Homo sapiens: one gene and its partners. The protein of the gene in region 2 purifies or fractionates together with the protein of the main gene of each other region. This does not show direct contact. Each region holds a gene or a part of one and is shown on either strand. Other genes may lie near its edges. The genes, in order: RABL6, AP3M1 and AP3S2.

Region 1 (2,891 bases), on a different chromosome or scaffold from region 2:
AGAACCAAGGCCCGTGAGCCCGGCCAGCCATCCCTACCCCGTGGCCCTTGACCGCTTTGCCCCCTGCTTTGCAGTGATGGGGAGGCCCTGGGCGGCAACCCGATGGTGGCAGGGTTCCAGGACGATGTGGACCTCGAAGACCAGCCACGTGGGAGTCCCCCGCTGCCTGCAGGCCCCGTCCCCAGTCAAGACATCACTCTTTCGAGTGAGGAGGAAGCAGAAGTGGCAGCTCCCACAAAAGGCCCTGCCCCAGCTCCCCAGCAGTGCTCAGAGCCAGAGACCAAGTGGTAAGGGCAGGTGTCCCCACGGGTGCGGCCTGGAGACCCGGGTGGGGCAGTTCAGGACGCCTCCAGAGGACCCTGACTGACCCTCTGCTTGTCCACAAAGGTCCTCCATACCAGCTTCGAAGCCACGGAGGGGGACAGCTCCCACGAGGACCGCAGCACCCCCCTGGCCAGGCGGTGTCTCTGTTCGCACAGGTCCGGAGAAGCGCAGCAGCACCAGGCCCCCTGCTGAGATGGAGCCGGGGAAGGGTGAGCAGGCCTCCTCGTCGGAGAGTGACCCCGAGGGACCCATTGCTGCACAAATGCTGTCCTTCGTCATGGATGACCCCGACTTTGAGAGCGAGGGATCAGACACACAGCGCAGGGCGGTAAGACGAGTCCTCCCGGGGCAGAGGTCAGCCAGGTGGCCAGGGTCCCTCCCACAGGCCTGATCTGGGTGGGTGCAGTGGGAGGAGGCTTCTGGAAGAGGCATCTCATGTCCCCACACTTGGGCCTTGCCGGCCTGGTTTGAGATCCCACAACCCCTGGGGGTGTGGGAGGGATGATGGCCTGACCAGTTGCTCTCCCTGCTCCAGGATGACTTTCCCGTGCGAGATGACCCCTCCGATGTGACTGACGAGGATGAGGGCCCTGCCGAGCCGCCCCCACCCCCCAAGCTCCCTCTCCCCGCCTTCAGACTGAAGAATGACTCGGACCTCTTCGGGCTGGGGCTGGAGGAGGCCGGACCCAAGGAGAGCAGTGAGGAAGGTGGGTGGGGGCACCAGAGTGCGGTCAGCCTGCTGGAGTTTGGGTAGAACGTGGGCCTCCTCCCAGCTGCTGGCCGCTGGCCGGGGTCCTCTCCTGAGTCCAGGATGCTGTGCCATGCTCCTGGCAGCCCCCTGCAGGAGCTGATGTTTGCAGTGTGGTCCTGTCCATCAGCAGGGCCTCCTGGAGGGCTGGGGCTCGCTGCTTTGTGAGTTTCTAGAGAAGTCCTGTCACCCAGCTTGGGGTCCCCGTTGGCCTGAGTTTGAGCCACTGTCTGTCCTGTCTGTGCAGGTAAGGAGGGCAAAACCCCCTCTAAGGAGAAGAAGAAGAAGAAGAAAAAAGGCAAAGAGGTACTGGCTACTCCCCTTCCTGGCAGGCCAGGACTGGGTGGCATGCGGTCCTGGGACCAGGGCTGTGGCTTCCTGTGACTCCATGGCGCCCCATCCTTGTGCTCCTCAGGAAGAAGAAAAAGCTGCCAAGAAGAAGAGCAAACACAAGAAGAGCAAGGACAAGGAGGAGGGCAAGGAGGAGCGGCGACGGCGGCAGCAGCGGCCCCCGCGCAGCAGGGAGAGGACGGCTGCCGATGAGCTGGAGGCTTTCCTGGGGGGCGGGGCCCCGGGCGGCCGCCACCCTGGGGGTGGCGACTACGAGGAGCTCTAGGCCGGCGTGGGCAGTGGCCGCCCTGGGGCGGGGGGCGTGCCTGTCACTGCCTGGGGAGGCATTTGCCTCTGTACCATCGCCTTTGCCGCTGCCCCGTGGCTGCCGTGTGCGCTTCTGAGCTGGAAGAGGCCGGGCATTGGTGGTCCCCAGGCTGGGCCCTGCAGGTGCTGGGCCTTCAGGCCCAGTGTGAGCCTGCTCTGCAAGAAGGGAGGGGACAGCTGGCTTCAGCCAGGCTCGGTGGACACCCTGGCCCTCTCGGGGCAGAGCCGCCAGTGTTTCTCAGGGATGTGACTGAGGCCCAGGAGGGACCTGTGAGGGTCTGTTTACAGAGGCTGGGCAGGGGCCGCTTGGCTGTGGGGTGTGCGCTGCCCCGGCACCTGCTTGCCCTCCGCGCTCATCTGGGGCCGCAGCATGCCTATGGTTCCGCTTCCGGCCGGGAGCCCTGAACACGGGTGTGCAGACTCACCCTAAAGGGCGGCCCAGGCCCCACGCTAGAAGGCTGGCGAGACCGAAGGCAGCATGTGAGGCCTCTCCTGGGAGTGGGGGTTGTGTTTCCCACAGTGGCCTCAGCTGCGCCCCCGCTCAGGTGAGCCCGAAGGCAGGAGCCGGGAGGCACTCCTCCCAAACACTCCACTCAGACCATAAAGCACTCCTGTTTCACTCTGCGTGTGTCTGTTCTTCTGCCTGTACCTCTGCTCCCGCTGCCCCGGGCCCAGGCTGCCGTGGGTTGGCAGGAGGCTGCCCAGCAGTGGTGTGAGGACGTCCCACCAAGTCTGGCCACACCCTGGGTACATTCCAGCCCACCTGTGCCAGGGCTCAGCAGCTGCACGCAGCACGCTTGGCGACCTCAGCCCCAGGAGGTGGAAGTCCACTCTGCAAGGCTCCCAGGCAGCCGCCTGCAGCCCTGCCCCCCGCCTTCAGGCTCCTGCCCCCTCCAGCTGTCAGCAGCGCCCAGCCTCCACCCCCACAGCTACTGTTGCCATGAGAACCCTGCAGGGCAGGCAGGAAGAGTGTGCCAGTGAAGGGGAGGAGGTGGCCAAGCTGGAGGCTCCTCTGCCTGGGAGCCTTGTGGCCCCAGGGTGTTGGGCAGTCACTGCAGTCCCTGAGCAGGTGCTGTGGCCCACAGCAAGCTTAGCCTGGCCCCTTAGCCCACAGCCCATGAGGTCAGGGCCGGGTTCAGGGGTTCGCCTGGTGTGGGGATGG
Region 2 (3,751 bases):
TGCGTGCCATGACACCTAGCCCAACAATCACTACATCTAGAACAATAGAGATACCCTCTGGGTGTCAGATTAACTGAAGCTTTACATCTCTATTAACAGGTCAGGGGACAAGGTCCATACTTAACTCTGGCTGGAATATAATAATAATTCTTTTATTTTTAAGAGATAAAGTCTGACTAGCTAGTCCCAGCTGGTCCCCAGAGTAACTGAGACTACAGGTATGCCACTGTAGAATATAATTTTTTTTTTTTTGAGACAGGGTCTTGCTCTGTCACCCAGGCTGGAGCGTAGTGGTGCTATGATAGCCAGCCTCAACCTCCTGGGCTCAAGCAATCCTCCCACCTCAGCCTCCCAAGCAGCTGGTACTACAGGCATGCACCTCCACGCCTGGCTAATTTTTGTATTTTTTTTGTAGAGACAGGGTCTTGTTATGTTGCCCAGGCTGGTCTCAAACTTCTGGGCTCAAGCAATCCGCCTACCTTAGCTTCCCAAAGTGCTGGGATTACAGGTGTGAGCTACCATACCCAGCCAGAATATGCTAATTCTAAGGAAAATTAAACTGTTTCCTTTATGGAGCCAACCCTGTAAGATGACTGGATATGAGTTTAAAACATTTGGCAGGACGCAGTGGCTCATGCCTGTAATCCTAGCACTTAGGGAGGCTGACGTGGGTAGATTATCTGAGCTCAGGAGTTTGGGACCAGCCTGGGCAACATGGCAAAACCCCGTTTCTACTAAAAATACAAAAAATTAGCCAGGCGTGGTGGTGTGTGCGTGTAGTCCCAGCTACTTGGGAGGCTGAGGCAGGAGAATCGCTTGAACGTAGAAGGCGGAGGTTGCAGTGAGCTGAAACCACAACACTGCACTACAGCCTGGGCGACAATGTGAGACTCTGTCTCAAAAACAAAATAAAACAAACCAACCAAAACCATTTTCAATAGAATTTTATTTTTTTTTAATTTTTTTTTTGAGACGGAGTCTTGCTCTGTCACCCAGGCTGGATGGAGTGCAGTGGCGCTATCTGGGCTCACTGCAAGCTCTGTCTCCCGGGTTCACGCCATTCTCCTGCCTCAGTCTCTCGAGTAGCTGGGACTACAGGCGCCTGCCACCACACCCAGCTAATTTTTTGTATTTTTAGTAGAGATGGGGTTTCACTGTGTTAGCCAGGATGGTCTGGATCTCCTAACCTCGTGATCCACCCGCCTCAGCCTCCTAAAGTGCTGGGATTACAGGTGTGAGCCACCGCGCCCGGCTTCAATAGAATTTTAAAATGTGGCAAGTGTATTATGAAATGGACTAAGTTAACTTTTAAGAAATAGGATCCATAATAGAAAGATATCTCTTTTTTTTTAAGAGACAGGGTCTCCCTCTGCCATCCAGGCTGGAGTACAGTGGTGTGAACATAGTTCACCACAGCATTGAACTCCTGGGCTCAAGCAATCCTCCTGCCTCAGCCTTCTGAATAGGTAGGATTAAGGAAGCCATGCCTAGCTAATCTTTTAAATTTTTGATAGATATGGGGTCTTGCTATGTTGCCTAGGCTGGTCTTGAACTCCTGGGCTCAAGTGATCTTCCTGCCTAAGCCTCCCAAAGTGCTGGGATTACAGGTGTGAGCCACCGTGCCTGGCAAAAATCTATTATTCTATAAGATGGAATGTTATAATGAAAAGGGGACTCATGGAAGAGAAGATATTGACTATAATTCACAATAAGCCATCATTACATATTAACAAGTTGTGTGACCTGGAACAGTTCACTTAACCCTTCTGGGCTTTCCTTATGTGTAAAATAAATGTAAAGGAAGGACTAGATTTTTTTTCTTTTTTCTTTTTTTGTTTTTTTAGAGATGGAGTCTCACTCTGTCACCCAGGCTGGAGTGCAGTGGTGCAATCTTGGCTCACTGCAACCTCTGCCTCCCAGGGTCAAGCAATTCTCCTGCCTCAGCCTCCCAAGTAGCTGGGTTTACAGGCGCCTGCCACCACGCCCAGCTAATTTTTGTATTTATAGTAGAGACGGGGTTTTACCATGTTGGCCAGGCTGGTCTCAAACTCCTGACCTCAAGTGATCTGCCTGCCTCGGCCTCCCAAAGTGCTGGAATTACAGGCGTGATCCACCATGCCCGGCTGCTATTTTTAATAATAAAATTTTACGATTCTTATAGAGTACTATTGTTTTGTCTGGTTAAAAAGATAATCAGATTGGGTGTGGTGGCTGATGCCTGTAATCCCAGCACTTTGGGAGGCTGAGGTAGGTAAACTGATTGAGCCCAGGAGTTCAAGACCAGCCTGGGCAACATGGTGAGACCCTGTCTGTACAAAAAAAACAAATAAAAGTTAGCCAGGCATGGTGGCGTGTGGCGTGTACCTCCTGATTGGCTGGGACTATAGGCTACTCAGGAGTTTGAGGTAGGAGGATCACATGAGCTGGAGGTCAAGGCTACAGTAAGCAGGGACTGCGCCAATGCACTCCAGCCTAGGCAAAAGAGCAAGACCCTGTACTTAAAAAAAAAAAAGAAAGTGAAAAATAATCAGATAGGGGCTTTTACCAGAAGTACTGCACATAATGTAGTAGCAAAAGCATGGTATATAGCAGATTTTCAATAAATGTTAGAAGGAATAAATAGCAAGAGGTAGAGGTACATAGGGTAATAATTGGCTTAAAGTAAGGCATTATGAGTTCTGATTTACATGTTTGGCAGACCTCAACTAGTGGTTATGAAAATTATATGTAACCTATGGGCAAAATAAACAGATTTATGGGCCAGGTGCAGTGGCTCACGCCTGTAATCCCAGCCCTTTGGGAGGCCAAGGCAGGTGGATCACTTGAGGTTAGGAGCTTGAGACCAGCCTGGCCAACATTGTGAAACCCCGTCTCTACTAAAAATACAAAAAATTAGCCAGGGCCGGGAGCGGTGGCTCACGCCTGTAATCCTAACACTTTGGGAGGCCGAAACGGGCAGATCACCTAAGTTCAGGAGTTCGAGACCAGCCTGACCAACGTGGAGAAATCCCATCTCCACCAAAAACACAAAATTAGCTGGGCATGCTGGTGCATGCCTGTAATCCCAGGTACTCGGGAGGCTGAGGCAGAAGAACTGCTTGAACCCGGGAGGCGGAGGTTGCGGTGAGCTGAGATTGCACCATTGCACTCCACCCTGGGCAATAAGAGTGAAACTGCGTCTCAAAAAAAAAAAAAAAATTTAGCCAGGTGTGGTGGCTCATGCCTGTAATCCCAGCTACTTGGGAAGCTGAAGCAGCAGGATCGCTTGAATCCAGGAGGTGAAGGTTCCAGTGAGCCAAGATCATGTGATTGCACTCCAGCCTGGACAACAGTGTGAGACCCCGTCTCAAATAAATAAATAAATAAACAAACAGATTTAAAAATCATCAGATAATGAATGCCTTTCCACCGAAACCATACTGCCAAAGGACTTCAATTTTCTTTTCCTTTCTTCTTCTTTTTTTTTTTTTTGTTGAGACAGAGCCAGGCTGGAGTGCAATGGCATGATCTTGTCTCATTGCAACCTCTGCCTCCTGGGTTCAAGCAATTTTCCTGCCTCAGCCTCCCGAGTAGCTGGGATTACAGGTGCGCGCCACCATGCCCGGCTAATTTTTTGTATCTTTAGTAGAGACAGAGTTTCACCATGTTGGCCAGGCTGGTCTCGAACTCTGACCTCATGTTCCGCCTGCCTTGGCCTCCCAAAGGGCTGGGATTACAGGCGTGAGCCACCGCGCCCGGCCAGGACTTCAGT
Region 3 (3,751 bases), on a different chromosome or scaffold from region 2:
TTCCATATATATGACATTTTGGTCCTTGTTTCCCAAAGTCATAGTTCAGCAGACGGGGAGTTTGCCCAGTTTTTCTTGCCTTGACTTTTTTCCTCTTGTTCAGCAAATTTCACTGGATTTCCAGCTGCTGTGTCATAATCCCTAGGTACAGCTGTTCTGTCTCTGCCAAAGCTGTTGCTTGCAGGGCTCCCATTTGAGCTGCCATAGCTATCTGAGTTACTGGCATTCCTGATGCCAACAGGGCAGCAACATTGAGAACAAAATCTCTAGTAACTGGAGCTATTTCTTGTTTTTGTTTTTCAATGATTTCTTTTTCTTTTAAAAAATTTTTTCCCAACACCCATCCCAACTATTTCTTTTTCTTGCTGTTCTTGTAATTTCTTTGCCTAGTCCATCCTCCCAGCTAAAGCTTCTTATGCATCCTTTGCTGTGCCTCTGCCTCTGAAGAGAGATGAACTGGAAATCTGGCTTAAACTTCTGCTAAATCTTAGTTTCTCAATGCTCTTCTTTCTCTCTTGTCTTCTGCTTCCTGTACTACTTCTGCTTCTTTCCTATGCATGTCATATTTATTTATTTACTTATTTTTCACACGCAACACAGATGTAGTTTTTATCTTGAACAGGAGCAAGATCTGATCCATGGTTTTCTTTCTTTCTTTTTTTTTTCTTTCCTTTTTGGAGACGGCGTCTCACTCTGTTGGCCAGGCTGGAGTGCAGTGGTGTGACCTCAGCTCACTGAAACCTCCACCTCCTGGGTTCAAGTGATTCTCCTGCCTCAGCCTCCCAAGTAGCTGGGACCTCAGACATGCATCACCACGCCTGGCTAATTTTTGCATTTTTAGTAGAGACAGGGTTTTGCCATGTTGGCCAGGTTGGTCTCAAACTCCTGAATCTCAGGTGATCTGCCTGACTTGGCCTCCCAAAGTGCTGGGATTACAGGTGTGAAGCACCATGTCCAGCCCATGGTTTTCTTTTCCTGCTTCTAGATCATGATCGTTCTTCTCTCTGCTTCTGGATTGAGACTACTTCTTTTCCCTCTACTACGATGATGCCTTTCACGAGACCTGTATCTTGAGTGACTTCTGCTTCTTGATGGCTTTCTTTGTGTTTGTGTCTGTCCTCATCATTTTCAGATGAATGTATTTATTTATTGAGACAGCATGTCACTCTGTTGCCCAGGCTGGAGTGCAGTGGCACAATCACAGCTCACTGTAACCTCTGTCTCCCCGGCTCAAGCTTCTCACCACAGCCTCCCGAGTAGCTGGAATCACAGGCACACACCACCACGCCTGGCTAACTTTTGTGTTTTTTATAGAGACAGGGCTTTGCCATGTTGCTCAAGCTGGTCTCAAACTTGTGAGCCCAAGCAATTTGCCCACCTTGGCCTTCCGAAGTACTGAGACTACAGACGTGAGTCACTGCGCCCAGCCCATTTTCAGATGAATTTAGTCCCTCTCTTCCTTTATCAGAATAATGTTCTTTGTCATTATGCTCCTCAGAAGTGTATTTCTTAGAGGATTTGTTGTAGGATTCCTGTCTTCTTGCCTCATCATGAAATAGGCTTATTATTTTCCTACCTGAGTCTGCAATGTCTTCAGTTCAGCCTCTTTGCCCATCAGCATGCGCTTTGTGTTTTCGTCCTTCGTTTTCTTTCTTGTTTTCTTTCTCTTGACCTTGATTGTGATCTTGAATAATATTTTGAGTAAGAAAAACAGATGCATCTGACAGTTCTTTTTCCACCCACTATCTGGGGATGTCTTTTTCTGGGGCTAGTCCATCTTGTCCTGGATAACTACCCTATCTTGAGAACCCAGTCTTAGTTTCATGAAACATCTTTAATGAAAACAGCCTTTTGGGATGGTGCTGCTGCAAACTGTGGTCTGGCTCTCCTCGCATGTGCTCTGGCTGCCGCAGAACAGAGCTCAGGCCGCTAGGGGGCACCTCCACGTGCCGCTTTTAGCAGTACCAGCCACCTCAAAGCTTTGCCACAGACTGAATAGCTCCTTCCGGGGGCCTGGATGGCACCCAGGGGATCTGCCGTTGCTTTTTTAATTTATTTTTTTACATTTAGCTCATTAATATCTGTTAGATATTTTTATGTCTGCATTGAAATATGTAACTTTATTTTTCCCCCAAAGGATAACTGTTCCAACATTATCAGTTAGCTTGTCTTTTCCCCACCAACTTAAAATACGACTCTTATTTTTAAAATTGCATTTTATAAACATGTATGTTTCAGTAATTTATATTCTGCCCCACTGATCTATATTCCCATCTTAGAATTATACTTTTATTTTATTTTTAAAATTTATTTAGAGACAAGGTCTTGGTATGTCACTCAGGCTGGAATGCAGTGGTGCAATGATAATTCACTGCAACCTTGAATTCCTGGGCTCAAGCAATCCTCCCACCTCAGCCTTCCAAGTAGCTGGGACTACAGGTGTGTGCCACTATGCCTGGCTAATTTTTTTATTTTTATTTTTTTGTGGAGACGATGTTTTGCTATGTTGCCCAGGCTGGTCTCAAACTCCTGGGCTCGAGGGATCTTCCTGTCTTGGCTGCCCAAAGTGTTGGGATTATAGGCATGAGCCACCTCACCCAGCCTTAGTATTATACTATTTTAGTTAACAAAGCTTTACAATGAATTTTGATACCTAGAAAGACTGCACCCAGGTGAAATAAACAGCCTTGTTTCTCACACAAAGCCTGTTTGGTGGTCTCTTCACATGGACACGTGAGACAGATTTCGCTAGGGAAGCAAATAACCATGGAGGTGGGCAAGAAATATCCATGATTGTAGAGCTTTCAATCAGCCTTTTATTCTTGTAACAAATGAAAAACAAAGGATTATCAGACATCTGCGGAAAACCTCTAACATAGAAGAAGGAGATAAAATGAACAAACAATAAAAAGCAACTTAAAAATGGACACCATATAAAGAAAGGAAAACAGTTTAAAAAAAAAAAAAACCCAAAACCCTATTCTTAAGCTACAGAGAAAGCCTGGCCAACATGGTGAAACCCTATCTCTACTAAAAATACGAAGTATTTTAGCCAGGCATGGTGGCACATACCTGTAGTCCCAGCTGCTCAGGAGGCTGAGGCAGGAGAATCACCTGCACCCGGGAGGCTGAGGCTGCAGTGTTCTGAGATCACACCACAGCACTCCAGCCTGGGTGACAGAGTGAGACCTTGTCTCAAAAAAAAAAAAAAAAAAAAAAGCCACAGAGAAATAAGACATTTATTTTAAATAATAATAAGACCCATTTATTAATTAGAAATAAAATAAGACCCATTTATGTCTTATTGCTAAATGGGTGCTAAACAAAAACACTCACAGCCTTGTTGCTCACACAAAATGAACAAAATGGTCTCTTAGAAATAAAAAATGAGAGGAAATGGAAACAAACAAAAACCCACTTCAACTGAAGTATTAGAAAATCAAGTTAATCAATTGTCTCAGAATGGGCAGAGATGGAAAATGGGAGAGAAAAGATGAGAAAATAAGACAGAGGCCGGGCACAGTGGCTCACGTCTGTAACCCCAGCACTTTGGTAGGCCAAGACAGGGGGATCACTTAAGGTCAGGAATTGGATATCAGCCTGGCCAACATGGTGAAACCTCGTCTCTACTAAAAATACAAAAATTAGCCAGGCGTGGTGGTGCATGCCTGTAATCCCAGCTACTCAGGAGGCTGAGGCAGGAGAATTGCTTGAACCCAGGAGGCAGAGGCTGCAGTGAGCCAAGATCGTG

What was found.
Region 1: the proteins of AP3M1 (region 2) and RABL6 purify together in Homo sapiens (co-immunoprecipitation; 4 studies listed by BioGRID and IntAct, with this or other methods). This does not show direct contact.
Region 3: the proteins of AP3M1 (region 2) and AP3S2 purify together in Homo sapiens (co-immunoprecipitation; 4 studies listed by BioGRID and IntAct, with this or other methods). This does not show direct contact.

What each region holds. Positions count from the first base shown.
Region 1 is NC_000009.12:136,838,835-136,841,725, forward strand, and holds the end of RABL6 (rab-like protein 6), read left to right. Parts: intron 1-74; coding exon 75-287; intron 288-387; coding exon 388-652; intron 653-859; coding exon 860-1,031; intron 1,032-1,319; coding exon 1,320-1,378; intron 1,379-1,487; coding exon 1,488-1,688; 3' UTR 1,689-2,353; downstream 2,354-2,891. UniProt on the Homo sapiens protein: May enhance cellular proliferation. May reduce growth inhibitory activity of CDKN2A.
Region 2 is NC_000010.11:74,130,213-74,133,963, forward strand, and holds part of AP3M1 (AP-3 complex subunit mu-1), read right to left. Parts: intron 1-3,751. UniProt on the Homo sapiens protein: Part of the AP-3 complex, an adaptor-related complex which is not clathrin-associated. The complex is associated with the Golgi region as well as more peripheral structures.
Region 3 is NC_000015.10:89,873,345-89,877,095, reverse strand, and holds part of AP3S2 (AP-3 complex subunit sigma-2), read left to right. Parts: exon of another isoform or gene 1-303; intron 304-3,751. UniProt on the Homo sapiens protein: Part of the AP-3 complex, an adaptor-related complex which is not clathrin-associated. The complex is associated with the Golgi region as well as more peripheral structures.